2 separate regions of the Homo sapiens genome follow, and region 1 is linked to region 2. Evidence: fine-mapped expression QTL. A gene starts in region 2. The other region holds a variant in brackets. All regions are shown on one strand. Distances are between the middles of the regions. Region 1 overlaps LOC105369655 (a long non-coding RNA gene). Region 2 holds the start of CLEC9A (C-type lectin domain containing 9A).

Region 1 (2,919 bases), 100 kb after region 2:
CAGGAGACATCTGAGTGTTGTCAAGGATCAACAAATCTGGATACTAGTTAATGTGGTGAGGACAGGTTTTATTCAGTAATACTATTGCAACAGGAACCAGTGCAGCATTAACTGAACTCAACTTCCCCAAAAGTAAAGCTGATGACATTTTAAAGTGGAGTTTGCTAAGGAAAAGATACTGAGTGGTGTTAAGGAAAGTTAATGTGACTAGACTCTCTGGATTTGTTAATTGGCCCTTATCCAGAGGACAGAGAAACTTTGCCTATCTATATGACAGAAGGACATGGTGATAGTTGAAGTGAAGCACCCAGCTAAGTTGGTCCTTATGCTGCATCTGAAAGAAAGAGCAAGATTTATCTCCCTGAATGTTTGCATTTCAAAGAAACAGCTCCCAAGTCCTTGAAGAAACAGTTCTGTGTGGTAGATTTGCTTCTCAAAGGGCAGAGAAAGAATTTAACTGTAAGATTTATTTTTCTTTTCTTTCTTTTTTTTTTTTTAGACGAAATTTCGCTCTTGTTGCCCAGGCTGGTGTGCAAATGGCACGATCTCGGCTCACCACAACCTCCGCCTCCCGGGTTCAAGCGATTCTCCTGCCTCAGCCTCCTGAGTAAGCTGGGATTACAGGCATGTGCCACCACGCCAGGCTAATTTTGTATTTTTAGTAGAGACAGCATTTCTCCATGTTGGTCAGGCTGGTCTTGAACCCCTGACCTCTGGTGATCCGCCTGCCTCGGCCTCCCAAAGTGCTGGGATTACAGGCGTGAGCCACTGCACCTGGCCTAACTGTAAGATTTCTAAAGTAACTGCTCTAAAAGGAATTCAGGAGCCTATCTGTTACCAAGTTTTTTGTTGTTGTTGTTGTTTTGAGACAGAGTCTCGCTCTGTTGCCCACGCTGGAGTGCAGTGGCGCGATTTCGGCTCACTGCAAGCTCTGCCTCCTGGGTTCACGCCATTCTCCTGCCTCAGCCTCCCAAGTAGCTGGGACTACAGGCGCCCGCCACCATGCCTGGCTAATTTTTTGTATTTTTAGTAGAGACAGGGTTTCATCGTGTTAACCAGAATGGTCTCGATCTCCTGACCTCGTGATCCGCCCGCCTCGGCCTCCCAAGGTGCTGGGATTACACGCATGAGCCACCACACCTGGCCTGTTAACAAGTTTTAACTGGAACAAAAAGTAAATTCTCCTAGCAGCATTGGGCTTCCTCAGGCTGGCCTTTTAAGTAGTGCTGAATCATCCTATGGACCTTGCCTTAGGCTACTAGAAGGC[G/A]TGCTAGAGTTTGCCAAGTCTCTAGTGCAGAGATTTGGGAGGAGTTGTTATATGATGAGGGCTCTGCAGTTCTGACAGTCTAACACCTATCAAAATGGAAGAGAGCTCAAGAGAGTACATAAATGAGCTTCCCGCCTTACTTAAGCTGCCACAAAAGTTTTACTAAGTTTTTGTAGACATGTTGCAAAGTGGTAATGTGGATCTTAATCTCAACATTCATCAGTGTTTCAGTCCTATAATGCAGTGCTTGGAAAGCAGCGTATGAGGTTCAGGACATGCAACCCCAAAATATGGATTCTTGGCATTTGAGAAAACAGCAGAATCAGGAAATTCACTCTCACACCTTTCCCCGTCTTTCTGCCCTGAAGCAGATCATAAGACCCTTATTTTAGAAGTATTGTTTCCTAGAGGAAAGAAACTTCCTTATCTTTGAAGATACAGAGATGCCAAGAAGAATCTGAACAAATTAGTCTTGCTAAGCTCCCTCCAGTTTATTAGCATTAGATCATACCCTCCTTGTCCAACGTAGGGGAGAAAAAGTAGTATCTTTTCCTTGCCCATCACCAGGTTCGTGACTGAGACCCCTATAACAAAAGACAGATTAACAAAACAAAAGCATGTAAATGTTATACGACAAGAGAGCCTTCTGAAATGAAGACGCAGGGAAAACTGAGTATTTCTACGGACAGTTATGCAGAAGTATGACTGGAGAACAAAAGGGTATAATCTAATGGTAATAAGCTGAGTAGAACTTAACAAGGCCTGTTTGTTCAGGTAACTTCTATTAAATAAATTTGGATGCTATTCTCTTGTTGATCTATGTTTTATTGTAGATGCCGTGAACCTAGCAATGAGTGAGGAAAAGGAATCTTTCACCCCTACAAAGGGATACCATGGAATTTCTCAAACAGTGAATACATTGGCTCCAGGAAAAAGGGTCGACCTCTTAAATAGAAATAGAGAACTAGAGAACAATAATGAGGGGAGTACCTTGCAGTCAGTAATAAGAAGCTGTCTTTACTATCAAATCAGACCTCCAGTGGGAGAGTTTTTCCCTATAGTGACTTTGACTGTCACCCTGTGTTTAATCACAATCCTATGAAAACAGTTAACTCTCTAAGTGGTCAAAGAAATTTTTCAATAAACATAAACTTTAGTCTAATTCTCATTATTCTCCTTTTTTGTCTCTTTGTCTAAAATAAAGCAATTAAACATTAATTATGCAAATCATTGACAAACTAGAAAAACAATACCCTTCGTATTTCAAGACAGTGGGAGAGATAGGCTGGGTATTCAGAGAAAAATACCCCTCATTAAATGTTAATGCAAGAAACAGGTGGAAGGCCGAGCATGGTGGCTCAGGCCTGTAATTCCTACACTTTGGGAGGCTGAGGCAGGTGGATCACCTGAGGTCAGCAGTTTGAGATCAGTCTGGCAAACATGATGGAACCCCATCTCTACTAAAAATATAAAAAATTAGCTGGGTGGGGTGGCAGGTGCCTTTAATCCCAGCTATTTAGGAGGCTGAGACAGGAGAATCACTTGAACCCAGGAGGTGGAAGTTGTAGTGAGCCAAGATCGTGCCACTGCACCCCAACCTGGGCAACAACAGTGAAACTCCATCTAAAAAAAAAAAAAAAAAAAAAGGAAAG
Region 2 (2,919 bases):
AATTTGTATATACATTAGTAGGTATCAATCAGGAAGGTCTCCCTCAACCCATTCAATAGGCCCTGCCACAAAATTTGAAAAGTTTAAAAAATTCAGAGCCCTGCTTATGTACATGGGTGTACATTTTTGCAGACAAAAATCCCCTGTGCCCTACCTACTCAGCAATCTTCCCCCTTCCTATCAATCTTCCTCTTCCCCTGAATCATTGGTCACAACTGATCTCTTTGTTTTCTTTGTCTTGGTTTTTCTCGAATGTCATATAGCTAGGATAATATGATAGCTTTTCAAACCGGCTTCTTTCACGTAGTAATATGCATTTAAGATTCCTCCATGTTTTTCATAGTTTGACAACATTTCATTTTGTTGTCGAATGATACTCCATTGCATGAATGTACCACAGTTTGTTTATCCACTCATCTTTTGAAAGACATCATAATTACTTCTAATGTCTGGCAATTATGAATAAAGCTCCTGTGAAAATGTGTGTGCCAGTTTTTGTGTGTGTTGGGAGCAAGCCCCCCAAAATCCGGCCATAAACTGGCCCCAAAACTGGCCATAAACAAAATCTCTGCAGCACTGTGACATGTTCATGATGGCCCTAACACCCATGCTGGAAGGTGGTGGGTTTACGGGAATGAGGGCAAGGAGCAGCTGGCCCGCCCAGGGTGGAAAACCACTTAAAGACATTCTTAAGCCACAAACAATAGCATGAGCAATTTATGCCTTAAGGGCATGTTCCCGCTGCAGTTAACTAGCCCAACCTATTTCTTTAATTCGGCCCATCCCTTTGTTTCCCATAAGGGATACTTTCAGTTAACCTAATATCTACAGAAACCATGCTAATGACTGGCTTGCTGCTAATAAATACGTGGGTAAATCTCTGTTCGGGGCTCTCGGCTGTGAAGGCTGTGAGACCCCTCATTTCCCACTTCACACCTCTATATTTCTGTGTGTGTCTTTAATTCCTCTAGCGCCTCTGGGTTAGGGTCTCCCAGACCGAGCTGGTCTCAGCAGTGTGTACAGGTTTTCCACTTTCTATGGTTCCTAGATTGTCTGTTAATACTATACTTACCTCTATAAGAAACTGTCAAGTTTACCGGGCCGCGAGGGTGCAGGCTGCGCAGATGGTGTGGTCCTGCGCCCCGAGGGCCGCAGCAGCTCATCCGGCAGCTCCCACCCCAACAACCTGGAAGGGGGCGGGACTTCCGTTTGTACCCGGCTGTGGCAATCTGTGGTGAAGTTGAAATGCTTTTCTGCTAGACTGGCAACATGTTTTGATTCTTCTCAAATAACTCGCAAGCTCTTGTGAAGCACAACGGCCTACCTTGTCCTGAAGAAAACATACTCTAAGGCCCACAGATGATTAAACCCAGCCATTTATGTGACAATAGCATTTTTATTTTTCTTATCAAGATCTGGGTATTTGATCCACACAATGGTAAAGATTCCCATGTTAGCCAAGATCTAAATGATTCAAACTGATGATACTCTCTGCAGAAGAGGTAAGAACCACTGGCAGTAGGGTGGAAGGTATGTCATTACAGATGATGCTGACAGAGAAGGTCATCTGAACCTACTTTATAAGAAAGGCATGATTAAAGGAGAAAGGGGAAAGGGCATTCTAGGTTAGGAAAGATTCTGAAGAAATGTAAAATAATATGAAGGTGTGAGCTGATATATTTAAGAAATAATGAATGATATGTGGGAGTATGTATCATCTGCAGAGATGGATGAGGGAAGATGCAAGTGGAGGGGAAGGCTGGAGCCGCTGGTGGAAAGACGTTAAGTGTATTTCAATGGCCTGATACTGCAGGCAGTAGACAGCCTCTGTAAATCAGGTAGCTTCCTTACTCTTGCTCCTACTGATCCCTCAGTCTAAAATGCCCTCTGCACTTTCTCTTTAGAGATAGAGAGGGAAAGGGAGTCAAACACGAAATCTCCAGGAGGCCATCCCTGGTTATTTCTTACTCCTCTGTTGATTTCCTTTAATCTGTGAAGTGTCTTCTAACTCGTGGCCTGAGGCTTTAGTGACTCTGCTGACTCATTGTCTGGTGCTACTGATTGTGCTAATGGTCTTCGATATTGTGTCCAGTGCCCCCCACCATTTTGGGAAGAAATTGGCTTTAGTTTTTACTCAGATTGAAATTTTATTTAGAAACGGGAGTAGCAAGACCAGGTGCAGTTAGTTACACCTGTAATCCCAGCATTTTGGAAGGCCAAGGTGGGAGGATTGCTTGAAGCCAGGAGGTTGAGAAATGGGAGTAGCAACCAATGTCGGTAGAAGAAACAGCATATAATAACAGGATGTGATAAATCTCAAGAAAAGTTACGCACAAATTACTATGGCAGCAGGAACGAGTGAGCCGCCCGATGCTGTCAGTGAAGGCTCTGAGGATTGGGAAGGATTGGCAGGGTTACAGGAGACAAACAAATGCTACAAATAACATTCCAAGTAGAAGGGGAAGTGAGGGTAGGGAAAGGAATGCAGACAAGGCTGAGCCTTGTTTGGAGAGCTAAGTTCAGTGTTGCAGATGCTCAATGTCATACCTTAGGAGGGAATTGCAAATTAAAACAACAATGAGAAACCACTGTATACTATTTGAATGACTAAAATCCAAAATACTCACAACATCCAATGCTGGCAAGGATGTGGAGCAACAGGAGCATTCATTCACCGCTGGTGAGAGGTAAAAAGGCATAGCCACTTTGGAAGGCAGTGTGGCAGTTTCTTACAGAGCTAAGTATAATATTAACATACAATCTAGCAACCATAGACGCAGGACAAGAACTCGGGCAAAGACGCCACAGCCACACAGGTTTCTGAACAGAAAATCAACATCCCAAAGATCCCGTAACATAATCTATGCTCAATCTCCATCTGTATATTAAAATCCATCCACCTACCTCCTTAGGGATTTC

The links.
Region 1: its variant is fine-mapped to the expression of CLEC9A in whole blood (INTERVAL, PIP 0.96).

What each region holds. Positions count from the first base shown.
Region 1 is chr12:10,131,186-10,134,104 of GRCh38, forward strand. It overlaps LOC105369655 (a long non-coding RNA gene), which reads left to right. Exons shown (of 4, transcript XR_007063208.1): 2 at 1-55; 3 at 500-607; 4 at 2,101-2,429. Among named protein-coding and RNA genes, the nearest start is that of CLEC7A, 2.4 kb to the left of the region's middle. RefSeq lists an enhancer at 2,553-2,919. The variant G/A (reference allele first, on the strand shown) is at 1,268.
Region 2 is chr12:10,029,471-10,032,389 of GRCh38, forward strand. CLEC9A (C-type lectin domain containing 9A) reads left to right here and starts at 1,212. Exons shown (of 9, transcript NM_207345.4): 1 at 1,212-1,502. It overlaps LOC102724020 (a long non-coding RNA gene), which reads right to left and starts at 1,153. Exons shown (of 4, transcript NR_169587.1): 1 at 1,073-1,153.